Linked DNA regions of Homo sapiens. The protein of the gene in region 1 interacts with the protein of each later gene in a pairwise test. Each region holds a gene or a part of one and is shown in the gene's direction. Other genes may lie near its edges. The genes, in order: FRMD8 and KCNH2.

What was found.
Region 2: the proteins of FRMD8 (region 1) and KCNH2 interact in binary tests that used the Homo sapiens proteins (3 or more experiments, as listed by UniProt).

Annotation. Positions count from the first base shown.
Region 1 is NC_000011.10:65,380,996-65,390,133, forward strand, and holds the start of FRMD8 (FERM domain-containing protein 8), read left to right. Parts: upstream 1-5,641; 5' UTR 5,642-5,766; intron 5,767-6,041; coding exon 6,042-6,126; intron 6,127-8,365; coding exon 8,366-8,533; intron 8,534-9,138. Other genes in the region: SLC25A45 (solute carrier family 25 member 45), read right to left, coding at 920-956. UniProt on the Homo sapiens protein: Promotes the cell surface stability of iRhom1/RHBDF1 and iRhom2/RHBDF2 and prevents their degradation via the endolysosomal pathway. By acting on iRhoms, involved in ADAM17-mediated shedding of TNF, amphiregulin/AREG, HBEGF and TGFA from the cell surface.
Region 2 is NC_000007.14:150,967,499-150,975,752, reverse strand, and holds part of KCNH2 (voltage-gated inwardly rectifying potassium channel KCNH2), read left to right. Parts: intron 1-277; exon of another isoform or gene 278-435; intron 436-711; exon of another isoform or gene 712-728; intron 729-811; coding exon 812-1,042; intron 1,043-1,246; exon of another isoform or gene 1,247-1,376; coding exon of another isoform or gene 1,377-1,383; intron 1,384-8,254.

The DNA of each region.
Region 1 (9,138 bases):
GCCCTCTGCAGGTGTCAGGCAGAGTGGCCTTGGAAGGCAGAGGCAGCACCCTCCCACCTGTGCCTTCCTCTCTTCTTCCCATCGGCCACTCCCCAGAGGACTGGGGACAGCTGGCTCTGGGGTGCTCCACGGAACCCAGACTTTTTTTTTTTGACACAGGGTCTTGCTGGTGTTGTCCAGGCTGGAGTGCAGTGGCATGATCATGGCTCATTGCAGCTTCAACCTCCTGAGCTTAAGGGCTCCTTCCACCTCAGCCTCTGGAGTAGTTGGGACCACAGGCGTGCGCCACCGCGCCTGGCTAATTTTTGTATTTTTAGTAGAGACGGGGTTTCACCATGTTGGCCAGCCTGGTCTCGAAATCTTGACCTCATGATCCACCTACCTCAGCCTCCCAAAGTGCTGGGCTTACAGGCATGAGCCACCGCGCCCAGCCTCTCATTTCTTATAAAGACAGGGTCTTCCTATGTTGCCCAGGCTGGTCTCAAACTCCTGGCCCCAAGTGATCCTCCTACCTCAGCCTCGCAAAGTGCTGGGATTACAGGTGTGAGCCACCATGCCCTGATTCTTTTTTTTTTTTTTTTTTTTTTTTTGTGGCAGGGTCTCATTCTGTCACCCAGGCTGGAGTGCAGTGGTGCAGTCATAGCTCACTGCAGCCTTGAACTCCTGAGCTCAAGCAATCCTCCTAAGTAGCTGGGACTACAGGTGTGAGCCACCATGCCCAGCTAATTATTTTGATTTTTTTGTAGAGACAGGGGCCTCCCTATGTTGCCCAGACTGGTCTCAAACTCCTGGGCTCAAGTGATCCTCCCGCCAGGCCGGAACTCAGACTTTGGTCTCTGCTCCTCCCATGTCACCCATCTTCCCGAGGAAGTGACCTACCATTGGGTGTGATGTGACAGAAGGAAGAAAAATGTCTCACCAGAGATCCAGCCAGCCACAAATTCCTCCACCGGCATTGTCTGGGCTTGCGGGAACTGGTGGCTCCAGCAGAGGAGACAGAGTTGAATTCCCCCCTCTCCCTCCCCTGGCCCACGCTGATAACCTCCCACTAATGTTTAACCCTGGCGGGAAGGTGAGAATTGGCCTGGTGCCCAGACCTCCGGCAACTGGCAGAGGAGAGCGAGCCAGTTCCGGTGACCCTGGCCACCTGGAGGAGTCGTGCAGAGTACAGTCTCACGGGCCAGGCGTGCCGGGACCACAGAGGCCCTGATCCCCGAGCCCGGCCAATGATCCTCGCTCTGAGGATGGCAACTGGGTTCCTGCCCCATGGTCGGGCCCCTCCAGGGCTGCCTTAGTCAGCAAGAGGCAAGCCCCTGCCTGCCCAGCCAGCCCAGCTCCACTCCCATTCATCTCCACCAAGGGGCATGGCCGCCCCCATGCCACAGAGAGAGGCCGGGTGCGGAGGTAGCGTGGCCACCAGGGGGTAGGCCCAGCCCGCATTTGCCGCTGCGTGGCAGGGTGGGGAGGAGCCACTCCCAGGAGTGACTCACCAGGCCTGGCTGTTCTCTTCAGGGTTGTTTACGACTCCCCCGACTCCCCCGTGTGAGTCAGAAACACAGCCTTCCTCGGCTTCCTCCTTCCCAGGGGAAAGATAGGGGTTTTGATTATTTAAAGTGCGTGTTGATCTGCAATGGCACCATTCTGCTCAGTCAAAACCAAAACCCTTTCAAGGATCTGTGAGCCACAGGGTGCCGCCCATTCTCCTCTGACCTCACGTCCTGCCACCCACCCCCTTGCTTTCTCTGCTGCAGCCACCCGAGCCTCCAGACTCTTCTTCAGTCAGCCTTCTGTCTCCAGGCCTGTGGACTGGCTCTTCCCTCTTCCTGGGCACTCTTGCCCTGGCACCCCTCCAGCTGGGGCTCAAATGTCACCACCTGGGTGAGGTCTGCCCCGCCTCCCCAGCCGGAGGCACTGCTGGCTCTTCCTCTCTTTCTCCATCACAGTTATCACGCCAACATACGATGGGAAGAACTTGTCTGTCTGGACAGGGATCTCTGGGTGTTCTGTGCACAGCGGGTGGCACAGGGTGGGCTCTCAATAAATCCTGAGTGACTGAATGAACGGAAATGTCAGCCAGCAGCATCAGCGGCAGCCTGGGGCTCCAGTTCCCTCTTCCCATCACCAAACGGCCCTGGGAAACATCAAGGCCCAGTGACACCTGCACCCTCCCCTCCAGATCTCCCCGCAGCTCCTAGTCTCCCATGGGGGACGCCCAAGGCCCAGTCCTTCTCTCCCTTCTCCTCTCACTGTGGCCAAGGCAGAACCCACCCACCCCTGCTGCTTTCTCCCGGGTGGACAGATTCGGGAAACAGGACCTCCTACCTCCTGCCTCTGGAGCTGCCTGGGGCTCCTTGGGCCACCCCCAAAGATCATCCTAAAAGACCATCCCCAAAGACTGGCCTCTCGTGGTGGCTTGGGCTGCAGTCCTGGTTCTGCTTCTTATTCCTGAAACTGCCTTTGCAAAAACTATAACTGATACAGGCCAGGCGCAGTGGCTCACGCCTGTAATCCCAGCACTTTGGGAGGCCGAGGCGGAAGGACCACCTGAGGTCAGGAGTTCGAGACCAGCCTGACCAACATAGTGAAACCCCATCTCTACCAAAAATACAAAAATTAGCCGGGTGTGATGACGGGCGCCTGTAGTCCCAGCTACTTGGGATGCTGAGGCAGGAGAATCGCTTGAACCCGAGAGGCAGCTGTTGCAGTGAGCCAAGATCATGCCACTATACTCCAGCCTGGGCAACAGAGCGAGACTCCGTCTCAAAAAAAAAAAACAAACAAACAAACAAAAAAAAAACCCTCCTGTCTCTCGTACAGCCAGCTCTGCATGAATTAAACTCTCCTTATTGCAATTCCCCTGTCTTGACAAATTGGCTCTGTCTAGGCAGAGGGTAAGGTGAACCCAATGGGCGGTTACATTATCTCTCTCAGTGATGTTGAGCAACCTCTTCTGTGGGCCTTGGGGTCTATTATTGTTTGCCAAAGTAGGACAGCAGTCGGGCTAATTGATGTCTAAGCCTCTCAGCTCTAAAGGCTGGAGGCCGCCTCCTCCCTCACTTCAGAATGGGTCTCATTCTCTTTTCCAATCTCACCGCCTCACCCCAGTTTGAGAAAGACCCTCATTCCCACTTCCCTACAGCCTTGCTGAAGGGAAGCCCACCTAAGCATGGCGTCATCTTGTGAATCTCTAGCTCACAACCTCCAAAATGTTCTTACTGTCTAACACGCCTGCCCCATATCTGTCATCCTGGGGTTCAAGGCCTCCCCCATGGTGCCACCCACCTGCTATGCTCTCACACAGCGGGGGTCTTTCCTGGGGTCCTAACCATGCTCGTGCAGTTCCCACTACCTGGAATGCCTTTCCTTCCCCACCATCAGCCTCCCGGACTCTCTCCCAGTGCCCCTCCTTGACTAGACCCGGGTTCTAGCCTCCCCACCACCACCGCAGACACTCCCAGGTGTCAGTCTTTGACATAAAACAGAGATGTGATACTCACCTCTTAGTGAGTTCTAAGGATTAAAGCACTTTAAAAAGTGGCTGGCACGTAAATGGCAACTGCTAATACTTATTTCCACTCTCAGGACGCATGAGAATGACACAGGAAACAGGGGAAAGGGCCTGGCCCAGTGCCCCACACACAGCAAGTGAGCAGAGACTTTTCCTGCCTGTAGCATTTCATAGTTCTTAAGGCAATGCTGTCATCTTCTGTGGTTTTATTTATTTTTTTGGAGACAGAGTCTCACTGTTGTCCAGGCTGGAATACAGTGGCAGGATGGCGCTATCAGAGCTCACTGTGAGCTCACACTCCTGGGCTCCAGCGATCCTCCCACCTCAGGCTCCTGAATGGCTAGGACCACAGATGTGTGCCACCACACCTGGCTAATTTTTGGGTTTTTTACAGATGGCGTCTCACTATGTTCCCCAGGCTGGTCTTGAACTCCTGGCCTCAGGCGATCCTCCTGCCTCGGCCTCCCAAAGTGCTGTGGTTTTAAATGTGCTGTTCTCCTGGGCTTCTTTCTCTTTCCCCTCTTCCTTAACTCACCAATTAAACCACAACAGACACTTTCTGAGGGCAGGGCCACGTCTCCCCTCAGTCTCCATCCCCTGACCTAGCACAAGCCCCGCATCCAGTAAGCATTCAAAACAACACTGAACTCTTCTGCTCCTGCTTCACTCCAGCTGGGTCAAGAGGCCATGGAGATACAGTGTGTCCTGGTCTGAGGGTCCCAGAGCTGAGAACCAGGAAGGAGATGCCTGCCCCCACTGGACACCCTTCCCTGCAGCCCACATCTGAGCTTCCTCAAGTCCTTAAGTCACATTGGCAAGGCAAATGTGATGTCATGGGCTCAGCTGTGGGGCAGTGTGGATCATAGGAGGGCAGGCAGAGCTGGTTCACATACCAAAGAAGGCTGGACTGGGTCAGGAGCTAGAGCTGCTTTCCAATCCCAGGGAACCAGGGCAAAGTGAACCCACTGCCCTCTGTTCCTGATCACCAAGCCCACTGCTGTCACTTGGGACAACTTCTGGTTCCTCTGGCCCCAGAAGGTGCCCCATGGACTTATTTTTCTCCCTGAGTTCCACATCTCAGATGCACACATGTTGCATTACCAGGACATGTCAGTGACATGGCCCTGAGGGTAGGTGGTTTCACACCTGCCTCTTTGGGGCCCCAAGTCTCCTCCCAGCCTGGGAAAACCTCAAGGTCTCCCAGGCTGTTGTGTAAGATAGTAAGGGCTCATGTCACTGCTCCCTGGAAAAACAGAGTGTCTGTCCTGGTTTTCTGATTTAGACATATATATATAAATTTTTTTTTTTTTTCAGACGGAGTCTCGCCGTCGCCCAGGCTAGAGTGCAGTGGTGTGATCTCGGCTCACTGCAGGCTCCGCCCCCTGGGGTTCACACCATTCTCCTGCCTCAGCCTTCCCGCGTAGCTGGGACTACAGGCGCCCGCCACCTCGCCCGGCTAATTTTTTGTATTTTTAGTAGAGACGGGGTTTCATCGTGTTAGCCAGGATGGTCTGGATCTCCTGACCTCGTGATCCGCCCGCCTCGGCCTCCCAAAGTGCTGGGATTACAGGCGTGAGCCACCGCGCCCGGCCGACATAGACATATATTAATAATCATTTAGAGAGTAGGGATAGTCCTTGGGGGTCATTCAGTTCAACCACCTCATTTTACAGATGAGGAAAACTGAGGCCCAGAGGAGAAGGGACTTGTCCAGGATGAGTCTGGGCCAGGACTCATTCTCCTGACCACTGCCGAGAGCGCCACGGTACAGGCCGCTGCCAGCGCCGCATGGATCCCTGGCACGTGCCAGGAAGTGTCCATTTCACAGGCAGGGAACTAGCCCGAAGACCCAGCGTGGGCAGGCCAACGCCCCTAGCCTGATTCTCGAATCTTCGCCAAACCCTCTTACAGGCCAACAGTCGGGGCCTTTGTGAAGGGAAACTCGCTCTGGGTCACTCTGGTGGTGGCGGGGCTGGTACGTGACGCGGCCACCCCACGGGCGTGATGAGACACGCGAGGCTGGCGTCCGGGCATGCGCGGGCCGCGCGGGGCGGCCCTGGGCTCCCATTGGCTCCCCCGGGTCGAAGGGGGCGGGGCCTCGGGCGCCGCGCTTCCTCCCGCCGTGGCTTCCGCGTCGCTTCCCGGTCAGCTGCGTCCTTAGCGGGAGCCCGAGTGCGGGCGGTGGCGGGCTTGGCGGCGGGGCAGGATTCCAGGCAGGAGCCTTGCCTCTCAGGTGGCGGGCTCTGCGACCCTGCGAGGTGAGAGCACAGCGACGTCTGGCCCGGGCCTCCGTCCCCGGCTGGGCGTGCGCCTTGCCCTGCCTGGGCATCCAGGTCGACCCCCGGTTCTTGACCGTAGCAACCCGCACCCCTCCCACCAGCGCCCGGTCTGCACTCTTGGCCCCTCCAGGCAGCGCCGCTCAACCTTGCGGACCCAGCCTGGGATCCCTTACCGTACTCACCGAGAGCTTGAGGAGACCTCCAGCCCCCCATCCCTGGCTCCCGGTAACTGCTGTTTCTCTTTGCCTTTGCAGATGGACGGGACAGAAGGCAGTGCCGGGCAGCCCGGCCCCGCTGAGCGATCCCACCGAAGCAGCGTGTCCTCCGTGGGAGCCCGAGGTGGGTCCCACCCGCATCTCCTCTTCCACACCCTCCTGGGACCCCAGCCCTGGAGAAGTAGCTCTGGCTTGTCTTCTTTTTCATTAAAGATAATTTATGTATCGACTAAGAAATAATAAGGTACATTCAGATGTGGAAAACTCACAGAAGTCAGAGGCTCTGTCACTAGTTTACTGGCCAGGTTGGGTCCTCGCTCTCATTTGTAAAATGAGCTTGTTTAACATAGCTGTGAAATTCAAATGAGATTATATGAATGAAAAGTGAAGGCTGATGTGGTTCATGCTTGTAATCCCAGAACTTTGGGAGGCCAAGGTGGGCAGACCACATGTGCCCAGGAGTTCGAGACCAGCCTGGGCAACATAGACAAAAAAGAAAGTGACACGTTCACTTTCTTTGTGTCATTTCTTTTTTTCTTTCTTTCCTTTCTTTCTTTCTTTGACAGAGTCTCCCTCTGTCGCCCAGGCTGGAGTGCAGTGGTGCGATCTCAGCTCACTGCAAGCCCCGCCTTCGGGGTTCACGCCATTCTCCTGCCTCAGCCTCCCGAGTAGCTAGGACTACAGGCGCCCGCCACCACGCCTGGCTAATTTTTTGCATTTTTAGTAGAGACGGGGTTTCATCGTGTTAGCCAGGATGGTCTCGATCTCCTGACCTCGTGATCTGCCTGCCTCAGCCTCTCAAAGTGCTGGGATTACAGGCGTGAGCCACCACACCCGGCTGTGTCCTTTCTTTCTCCCAAACAGCCTTTTGAAAGCAGGGATCAGGCTGGGCGTAGTAGCTCACACCTGTAATCCCAGCACTTTGGGAGGCCGAGGCGGGTGGATCACTTGAAGTTGAGAATTCCAAGAGCAGCCTGACCAACATGGAGAAACCCCTGTCTCTACTAAAAATGCAAATTAGCTGGGCGTGGTGGCACATGCCTGTAATCCCAGCTACTCAGGAGGCTGAGGCAGGAGAATGACTTGAACCTGAGAGGCGGAGGTTGCGGTGAGCTGAGCTCGCACCATTGCACTCCAGCCTGGGCAACGAGGGTGAAACTCCGTCTCAAAAAAAAAAAAAAACAGGGATCATATCATGATCTTCATTTGATAGGGAGGAAACTGGGCCCTAGGGAGGTTAAGTCCCAGGCAGGCTGTGGAAGCTCTCCAGGTGATTACATACTGCAGCTTCTGGTGCCTCAGTTCTTGCCTGAGAAGTAGATCTGAACCTGAGCCTCCTCGAAGTGATTTTGTGATCTCTGAGAGTAGCTGCTGGAGCATAACAGACTGGGGGTCCGAGGAGCACCTTCTCTTGTGTAGATGAGAAACCGTGCCCTTCCCTTCCACACACTCTTGGAGGGAGGAGTATTAGCTCTACTTTTACAGATGAGGCAACTGACAACTTAAATTGACTCCCTGAAGTTGGCCAGCGACCAGGCAAGGATGGGAACCCGAGTATGTCGGCCCCAAACTCCAGTGTTCCTTCACCATGCCTGCAGTCTCAGGGATGGGGATTTGAATCTGGTTGCTCTTCCAGGTGTCTCCATTTGGCTCTGGAACCCACAAGTTGTCACAAGGGAACTCTCAGCTATTTGGGCTGTTCTTCCCTAGCCTGCTTCGTATTGACTCCTGAGGCTTAAAGAGTCCTCAGACTTAAAGAGTCCCAAGGAAGCTGAGACCTGGAACTTGCTTTAACCTGGGTGACCTAAAGAATTATCTCTTCGCATCTTAGCCTCAGTCAGAGAGAGACTTGCCTAAGGACAGCAGCGGGTTACCAGCTCTCGCTCCTGCCAGCCAGCCAGACTAACTGCCATAGCCTCAGGATGGTTTCAGCCTCTCTATGCTGTGGTTTCAGCCTCTCTGTGCTGTAGTTTCACATCTGTGGCATGTTCTTGTTCAGGGCAGAAGAACAGTTGAATCCTTGGGGCAGCTATGGTGGTGAGGGGCAGGTTTGCAATGGCCAGGCTTAATTTGAATCTTGGGGGATTGCGGTGGGGCTGGTCTCTGGGCAGGAGTTACTGGGTTTCTGGGTGGTTTAAGGGTGTCAAGGAAGCACTAATAGATAGCATTCGTGATAGGGTCTTTTGGGGCTGCTGGGGCTCTGCCTCTGGCGAGGACTCTGTCTCAGGAGCGTAGCCCTGGTCACCCCTGAGGGGTGTAGGGTGGGGGCTCCAGCCCCAGTGGGTGGTAGAGGGTGCCTGGTTGGCCTGGCCTGGCTGTGCCAGGCAGAGGCCTCAGCTGAGCCTGCCTGGTCTCCATCACAGCGGCTGACGTGCTGGTATACCTAGCGGATGACACGGTGGTGCCCCTGGCTGTGGAGAACCTGCCCTCGCTCAGTGCCCATGAGCTGCACCGCGCTGTCCGCGAGGTCCTGCAGCTTCCAGACATCGCCCTGGATGTCTTCGCGCTCTGGCTGGTCTCCCCTCTGCTGGGTAAGGCTTGGCAGTGAGGAGCCCAGGCTGGAGGGTTGGAAGGGCACTGACCAGTACAGGAGGGAGGGGGCAGTGTTTGGAGCCGCTGGGGAGCCGCTGGCCACTGCCCATGGGGAAAGGTGGGACTTGGGTTTATCCTGAGCTGTCCACCTGTCTGAGCACCTAGAGCCCTGAGAAGGCCCCCGCTCCTGGCCCTGCTGTCTGTCTTTCTGCTGGTGGTGGAGGAGTGGACACGCCTGCCCCCCAGGTCGTGCTGGGACTGGGTGGTCCAGGAACAGTACCGCAGGAGGGAGGGAGGAAGGGGGCCTTGTCTGCCGAGCATAACCTTTGCCACAACCTGGGTGGTGTTTGGGAACCATGATTTCACCTTGTCCTCAGGCCTAGGCCAGTCTTGCAGATGGAAGTTGTAGTTAGGGTGGCGAGACCACTGTGTGGCAGGAGCAAGACAGACCCAGGCCTGAGTGGCTTCCCGGTCGGCCTCTTTGAACTGTTCCTGTTCCTTGGGGACAGGGAGGAGAAGGGACATGGCTCAGGAAGTAGGCCCCTCTGACCCTGAGGCTCTTAGTGAGGGTGGGAAGAGTAGAGACTTGACTTCTCTGGGAGGG
Region 2 (8,254 bases), on another chromosome or scaffold:
TCTGCCTCTGCCAGACCAAGGTTCAAAAGCTGGCTCTATCATTTACAAGCTGCAAGACTTGGGCATGGTGCCGAACTTCTCTGGAGCCTTGGTTTCTTCATCTATAAAAGGAGGATAATAACACCTACCTTATGGGGTTGTCAGAGGACCTAATGAGATGCAGCGTCCTTAGGTGTTCAACGTGTAACTTCCCTCATCCTCTCTGGCACACCCACCCCTCAGCTCCTGACTGCCCTTGGGGCGGGGGTGGTGTGCAGAAGTTCTAGGGGGTACTGACCTGGTAGGATCCTCAGATAATCGGGGAGTGATTTCCTAGGGAGCCTCAGGATAAGGAGTGGCTCAGGGAGCGCCCCCCAGTCTGGAGAGCAGGGAAATTAAAAGCAGAATCCAGAGAGCCGATGCAAAGGGAATCCTGGCCGCCATCTCTGGCCTTTCCCAGGCTCCCTTTCTAGGCCCAGTGTTTATCCCTCCGCCGCGGCTGCTGACACGCGTTGCTGACACCCGCCAGGCTGGCCTCAGCCTCGGGCATGGAGGAGGCGGCGGGCTGCTGGCGGCCTGCCCGGGGGAAGCCACGCAGCCCGCCCGCGGGCCAGGCGGAGGAGGGGGCGCGCCGCGCGGCCCGGCCGGCCAGGCACCTGTATCGGGGCACACGCACAGCTGCGTTCGCCCCCTGCTGGGACCCCAGTCCCAGCCATGCTTCCTGTGGCGGGGAGTCCCCGGGCGGCTGTGTGAGTGGAGAATGTGGGGAAGGGCTGGGAGTCCCGGAGGCTGGGGTCCCCGCTCACGCGCACTCTCCTCCCCGCCCCCCTAGGCCGTAAGTTCATCATCGCCAACGCTCGGGTGGAGAACTGCGCCGTCATCTACTGCAACGACGGCTTCTGCGAGCTGTGCGGCTACTCGCGGGCCGAGGTGATGCAGCGACCCTGCACCTGCGACTTCCTGCACGGGCCGCGCACGCAGCGCCGCGCTGCCGCGCAGATCGCGCAGGCACTGCTGGGCGCCGAGGAGCGCAAAGTGGAAATCGCCTTCTACCGGAAAGATGGTAGGAGCGGGCCGGGGCGGGGCCACGACCAGGGGCGGGGTCAAGAGGGGCGGGACCACGGCGAGGGGCAGGGTGCGTGGGGGTGTGGGGGTGTGGGGGCGGCTGGAGAACGCCCCGAGCCCGGGCAGGGTTCTGTGGGGGTGTGACGCGGGCGGGGGCCCTGCGGTGTGCCTGTGGGAGGCGCGGTTCCGGGGCCTGCGCCTCACTCTGCTGAGATGGTTTTCAGGAGGGCAAAGGAGTTGCTAGGCTGTGGGTCTGGCTCCTCTGGTCCTTTTTTTCCCTGGGCAGGTGTGGGCACGTAGAGCAAGTTGGACTAGAGTTAGACCGAGCTGGGATGGCAGGTACGTGCGTGGATGGAGGTTAAAGGTCAGATTGGCAGTTGTGCGCTGACATCCGGGCACAGGCCCCTATCTACCTTAGGGCAGTTGCTGCCAGGTGACAGGTCTGGGAGATGTCATGGAGGGACAGGAGGGCTGCAGGACTCTGGCTGTCTCTGCTGCCCCCCTCCTGCCCTGCGCTTCAGCAGCACCTGGGGGAGGTGCGTGCCTCTCCCCGCAACCTCAGTTCCCTTTGTCTCAGCTGTCGAGCGCCCCGCCCTGCCACCCTCTCCTGCGCCAGGTGTCTTTACTCAGCCACCGCCTCCCAGCACAGCTGCTCTGGGCTTCCGGAGAGCGGATAAACAGAGCCCGGGGTGGGGCTGCTCCCACACCGTGAATGCCCTGTTGGGGTGGGCTCTGGTCAGGGCGGGCAGAGCAGGAGGACTGGGGTCCTGTGGGCAGAATCCGGCTGCAGAGGCGGCTCTGGAACGCGTGCAAACCTTGCTGCTTCCTAGCGTGTGTCCCATAAGCATTGACTCAACCCTTGTGAGCCTGGCAGGCACTAGGCTCTTGGAGATGGGCAGGACAGATGAGGCTCCTGCCCTCAGGGAGCTTGTCTGCTGTAGACAGTGAGCACGCTCTGCTTTCTGTTTGGGACCAGGCCAGCCAGCCCCATGTGCCAGCCCTGTGTGCTCAGGGTTGGCTGGGGTGGCCCTGCAAAGCTTTGCATCCTCCAGGCTGTGCTTTTGCAGGCGTGCACAGTCTGTGGCATCACTGGACGGCACTAGAGGGGGCATGGTCCCTGCACCCTGTGGAAGAAGGTTCGCTCACAGCAAATCAGGGTTCTAACTGGCAGGAGGCAGGGGCTGTGAGACTAGACTCAAACCCTGAAGGCAGTGGATGGTTTCTAGGGGCTAGACACTGGGCCAAATGCTTTACTTCTCTTATCTCAGGCACTCTTCACAACCCAGGGAGGTAGACACTACTGTTGTCTTCATTTTGGGGGATGAAGAAACTGAAGTTCACACAGTCACACAGCTAGAAAATAGCAGTTGGGAACGGAGCCCACATCTGTCTGACCGGAGCCCTGTGCGCTCTGTTCTGTCTGTCATATATTGAAAATGACACCAGGTAGTTGCAGGTCTATCTGTATGCTGTACATTATCTCATGTGAAATTTTATTGTAAAAGTTTGCCAACCACAGGTGTACTGAAAAGAATATGAACCCATAAGTCCTGGGTTTGTGTCTAAGACAATGCTGGAAATTATACACTACTGGACAAGTTGGTTGACTTCCCTGGGCCTGTTTCTACTTCTGGGATAACGTGCCTTGCTTTGGACCTTCACAAGGGTGCTGAGCTTTCATAGAGAGTGCCTGCAACGGGCCGTGCTCTGTAAACACGGTGCCAGTCCCACTACGATGTAGCTGTGCTGGGGATTTGGCCTCTTGGCAGCAGCGGCTGAGGGCTCTTTCCTTTGGCTGTGGTATGTGTGGAGTGCTCTTAGGTGGAGCTGGCCCTCCCTCCCAGTCTAGGCTGGCCCCTTCTGGAGAGGATGGCTATGGGCCCCCTTCTGCAGAGGAGTTATTGTGGGATCACCTAATCCAACCCATTCGACTTGCAGGTGGAAGGACGGAGAAGCAGAGGTCTGATGACCAGTGAATCAGTGGAAGGAGTGGGATTAGAACCCAGATCCCCAGCCCAAGTTCAAACTTGTCCCCTCTCCAGGTTACAACTCCAAAAAATGGGGCTGTGACCCAGAAAACTCTGTGCCAGCAATCTCTGTCTGTCCCCTTCTTCACTCTCACCTAGTTTCCACGGGGCTCAGGTGTCTCCTGTTGGCCAACAGGCTGGCCTGGCACTCAGCCACCTAGGACCCCATGTATCCTGGCATTCTAGGCCTGGGGTGATGCAGACAGATTTCCTCAGCCTCCGCTTCTTCTGCCTTGAAACACTCAGTCCCTCCTGTGATCCCCGGGACCTGGCTTGGGCTGCGTGTGTGCGTGCCTGTGTGTGTACTCACACATGGGCCTGGTAGGGAGGCGGAGGTGAGGAATGCCTGCGCCACCCCTTGTTTCTGTCCAGGCCTTTCTCAGGGTCTCTGCCTGGGCCAGCCTCGGGTAGGGGGAGCTGGGCAGGAGGTGGAGCCTTCTGCTGGCAGGCGCCGCCGTGGACAGCTGTGCTGTGTTGGTGCCTCTAGCCTTGCTCTGCGCAGTGTCAGGGCCTGGAGCCAGACAGCCCCATTATTTAGTTGCTGGGACTGCTGGGAGGTGGGGAGGCTAGACTGGGGGAGTGTGGGCTGAAGGGAGAGACATGAGGTGCCTGGGGCTCACTGGCCCTGTGCCCCTTGAAGTCAGGCCCGGGATTCAGGTGGAATTGGGGGCAGAGTCCAGTGGTGTGAGGCTGGCTGGCGGTAACATCCCCGCAAGGCCCTGGGGAGGCACCCCGGGCAGCAGGTGCTGGCTGGGTCCACACCTGTGCTCCCACATCGCCATGGGGGCTGTGGCTCCTCCTCTGCCAGTCCTCACAGAGTCCCTTCTCTCTGTCCCCCTGCATCCTCTCTGCTCTTTGTTCCTGCCTCTGCTCCCTGCTTCCCTGCCACCGTGCTCAGCCAGCCTGACTGTGCCCACCTTCTCGGCTCCTCTCTCACTCCCCACATCTCCTTGCCTTTGTCTTCTGCCTGCCTGGCTTACTCTCTGTCCCTTGGTCTTTATCTCCTCTCTGGTGCCTCCTCCTGTCTTCTTCCCTCGCCTCAGCACCCCGGAACCTTGCTCCTTGCCTCTCTCCCTCTCTCCCATTGTCCCCCACCCCTCGGAGCCTCTATCTGGAAGGCTCTGTCTGGCTGCTCATACCTCTGACTGGCCTGGCCTGGCTCCATGTCCCTGTGTCCCCGGGAGCTTGTGCGTGGGTGGGGACGGTGGTGTCTCTGGAGAGGAGTCTATTAGCTTCTCCACTCCAGCTGCAGGCCAGTTGCCATGGTAACAGGGTCAGAGGGCCCCCCACTGCAACAGCTGATGCTGCGGCTGTTGGGAGGGGGTGGGGACCTGCTGTCCAGGCCTGCTCCCCAGTGCACTGTGCCCAGGGCCTCAGAGGTGGCCCCACGCCCAGTGGGCTTCGGTCTGTCCCCGGCCTTGGAACCCAGCCTCCCCAGTGCTCCTGCAGGCCTCAGACCTCAGACTGCCTTGAAATCCTTAGTACCTCCTGTGATCAGCCCCACTCCTCTGGGCCTCCTGCCCTTCTCCGTCCCCCAAGGCCGTCTGTCCTGTCTTCTTCCTTGCCTTCTTCATTTCTTCCTGTGCCCATTCCTTTAAATCAGACGCCCTGCTCTTGTCACCACCACGCCTCACCTTCTCCCTCATGGCTGACCCCTCCCCAGCTCAGACACCCACTTTCTGCTTCTTTTCAGCCCCCTGGGTCTGAGCTGAGGATGAAAGAAGCTTTTCCTTGAAGGGGAGCCTTGAGGCTGGGAAGGCAGGTGGGACAGGGATTGGTGTATAAGTGGGTTTTCTTGTCTTGAGATAGGAGGCAGACCAGAGCGATCCCAGAGGATGGGGCTTAGACACAGGAGAACTTTTCCTGTGGCACTGAAGCTATCAGGGGAGCGCCCTTCATCATGGGGACAGCGGTGTTCCTATCCTTCTGGTCAAGGCCTGGTGCAGCCTGGAGACAGGGCTGAGTGGGAGAATCTGCAGGGCTGCCAGGTGCGGGCGGGGGTCCATGGGGGCCCTGCTTCCGAGCCAGTTGCCTCTTGCCCTGCAGCACCTTCCCTCCACCTTTCCCTTCTCTAGCTGGATCAGAGGCCTGTTGGAGGGGCTCCACGGGGGTCATTCCTGAGCTGCGGCTGTCTGTCCTGGTCTGCCGGGGCTGCAGTCTTCCTATCCCAGTCCTGCTCCAGGGGTGAGGCAGGCATGACGCAACTGAAGGGTGCTATCTACTCCTTGACCCACCCTGGGGTCTGGAGAGCGTCGGGAGAGCGGCTTCTCCGTGTTGCGTCTTCTGCAGCCCCCGGAGAGGAGCTATGTAAATATTTGCGAAGAGCTGTCTGAGATGGGAGCAGAGTTTGATGGTGGCCTTGGGCTCTGGGGAGGGGGGCCATGGGGCAGCAGAAGGGCCAGCTTGGGGGTGTGTGAGGGGGGAGACTGGGCCTCTTTTCTCCCCAGAGGTGGCTTCCTGGGTGGGGTGATTTTGGAGGTTCCAAGAAAGCCCTTCACATGTTGGTATTTCCCTGAAGCGTTCCTGAAACTCCTCCCTTAGAGAACTTCTGCGTTTAGAGTGCTCCTTTTTCCTTAAAAACACGTTCTCTCTCATTGCCCCCTCCCAGTATAGAGACAGAAAGTATTTAGCCCTTTAGTGTGAGGGAGTTTAACAGAACTTCCCTCCCGACGTGGGCAGGAGGGCCATGGGAGTCAGGGTCAGTAGAAGAGGGAGGGGTGCTGGGACAGGTGATGAATGTGGGGTGCTCCCCTAAAGTCCCCTCCATGTCCTTAGTCTTGCCCATAAAGATCTCTATGCTGTGGCCTGTGGTTGGCCTCAGATAAACCCCTCTCCTTTTTGGGTGCTTATCCAGGATGAGAAACACCTTGGGAGCCAGGCAGCCTTGGTCCTCCGCCTCCTGCAGTACTGGAGGAGGTTCCCTGTCCCTCTCCCCGCCACCAGGCCTTGAGCTCCAGGTGGGTGGAGAGCAGCCCATCTGCTTTGTTCTCTGTTGTATCTGCGTGCTCAGTGCACAGCGAGAGCTCGGCACTGTTTGCTGAATGAATGAATGAATGGGGTGGGCAGTGTGCTGCGTTGCAGGAGCCTTCCCTGGGAGTCAGGTGACTTGGCAGGAGTTTCCAGCTTGGTTACAGACTTGCTGTGTCTGGGAGTCCTCTAGCCTTGCTTTGCGTGGACATTGTGGGGCACAGGAGCATCTGGGGGCTCCCAGCTTCACCCTCAGAGGTGGACCGAGGAGGATGGGGTGGGGGGACAGAGTCTTAGAGCTGCCACAGAGAGCACAGCTGAGGTGGGGGTGATGCCACCTGACCAGCAGCACAAGGCACTTCTATTGTTGTGACTGCACTTTGTAGTTTGCAAACTGGGGAACCATGCTTTACCGCAGGTGGTCCTCATGGCCCTGTGAAAGGCAGGATTCCTCTCCGTCACTTTATGGGAGGGAAGCTCTTGCTTAGAAAGGCTGAGGCACTTGCCCAAGTTTACCCAGCTGGCGGGTGGCCTGAGTGGGAACCCGAGCCTAGCTGTCCCCTCCCTGCCCAGCGTGGAATGCCACTGCACCAGCTCTCTTGCCCCCAGAGAGCCCTTCTGGGGCATGATGGGCTCAGGGCCTCAGGAAACTTGGATTTTAGCTGGGGTCTGCAAACCTCCATTCCTCGTTTGCTAAGTGGGATCATAGCGCCTGTCCCTGATGCACTTTGGGGTGTGAGGGTGTTCCTGGAATGAGATGACAGACACCCACAAAGCAGCGTGCGGTGCCAGAGCTCATTCTCCTCGCCATGAAGCAGGGCGTCACCTAAGTGGCTGCAGCTCCTAGCCCGTGCTGTTGCAATCGTGGGAAATGAGCCTGATCCGGGGCCTCAGCACCCCTGCTCCTATGGTGCACCCCGCCCCATCCTGCATGCTGCCTGCCTCTCCCCTTCCCTCCCTGCAGGCTGCTGCTGGCCCCGGGTCCTGCCTCTCCCCCAAATAATTGAAACCACAGCATTTGTGTTATTGCTTTTTCCTTTCTCTTTCATTTTTTTCCTTTTCCCTTTTATCTCACTCTCCAGTCTCATTACCCTCCCCATAGGCAACCGTTCAAATGTACTTACTGTGAATGTGTTGCTTGCATATGTTCTTGCAAATGTGTATTTTGTCTGGATATATGCATATAGATTTAATTTATGTAAATGATATTGTGCTATATGTTGTATTTTGGTGTTCGCTTTTCTTACTTGGGAATGTGCTTTAAGTCCAGCTGGGTTGCTGTTCGACATCTAGTCTGTAGGTGCGTATTCAGTGGCATGCGGCCGCCACGCTTCACCCACCCACTCTCCCGGGGAGGGACCCCACAATGTCTCCAACTCCCAGCCACTGTAAATGAGGCTGTAGTGAATATCCTTGGACATGGTCCCTTCTGGACTTGGGTGAGGATGTCTGTGGGATACACGCCCGGGAGTGGAATTGCTGGATCGCGGGACATGTGGACACTTAACTAAGTACTGCCATGCCTGTCATCACCCTCCTTCTCAGAGCTCGAGATTCCCATACCCGCATATCTTGGCCACTCTCGACATTATCTACCTTTCTAAATTTTGCCAATCTAATAGGTGACAGTGATTTCTTGTTGCTTTAATTTGCATTCCTTTGATTTCTGTTGAGTCTGAGCATCTCTTAGGCCTGGTAGCCTCTTGGGCTTACTTTCCCGTGAATTGCCTGCTCATGTCCTTTGCTCATTTTAATTTTGACGTCGCCGTCTTTTGTCCTTGTTGATTTGCAGGAGTTGCTTGTGTACTCTAGAGATACCAATGCATACTGTTAAACATTCAGTGTATTCCAGATTTTAATTCCTTGTTGAACTGGAAACAGATATTGCAAATATCTTCTCCCATTCAGTCTCTCTTCAATTTATCCAACAAAGATACTTAATTTTGATGCAAACAAATTCATTGATTTTTAGCTTTGTTTGTACTTTTGAAGTGTCTCAGGCTGCAGAGGGTCTCCATTTTCTTCTGTTCTCTTAATTGTTTTGCTGTTCTCAGTTAGGTCTATAATCTATCCTGAGACTACCCCGTATGTGGTGTCAAGTAGGGATCGAGTTTTATTTTTTCCATGTAATGTGCCAACTTTCCCAACGCATCTTGTAAACAGTCTGTTCTTTTCCGCTGAATTGTGGGGCAGCCTTTATCAGGTTAATCTCCCAC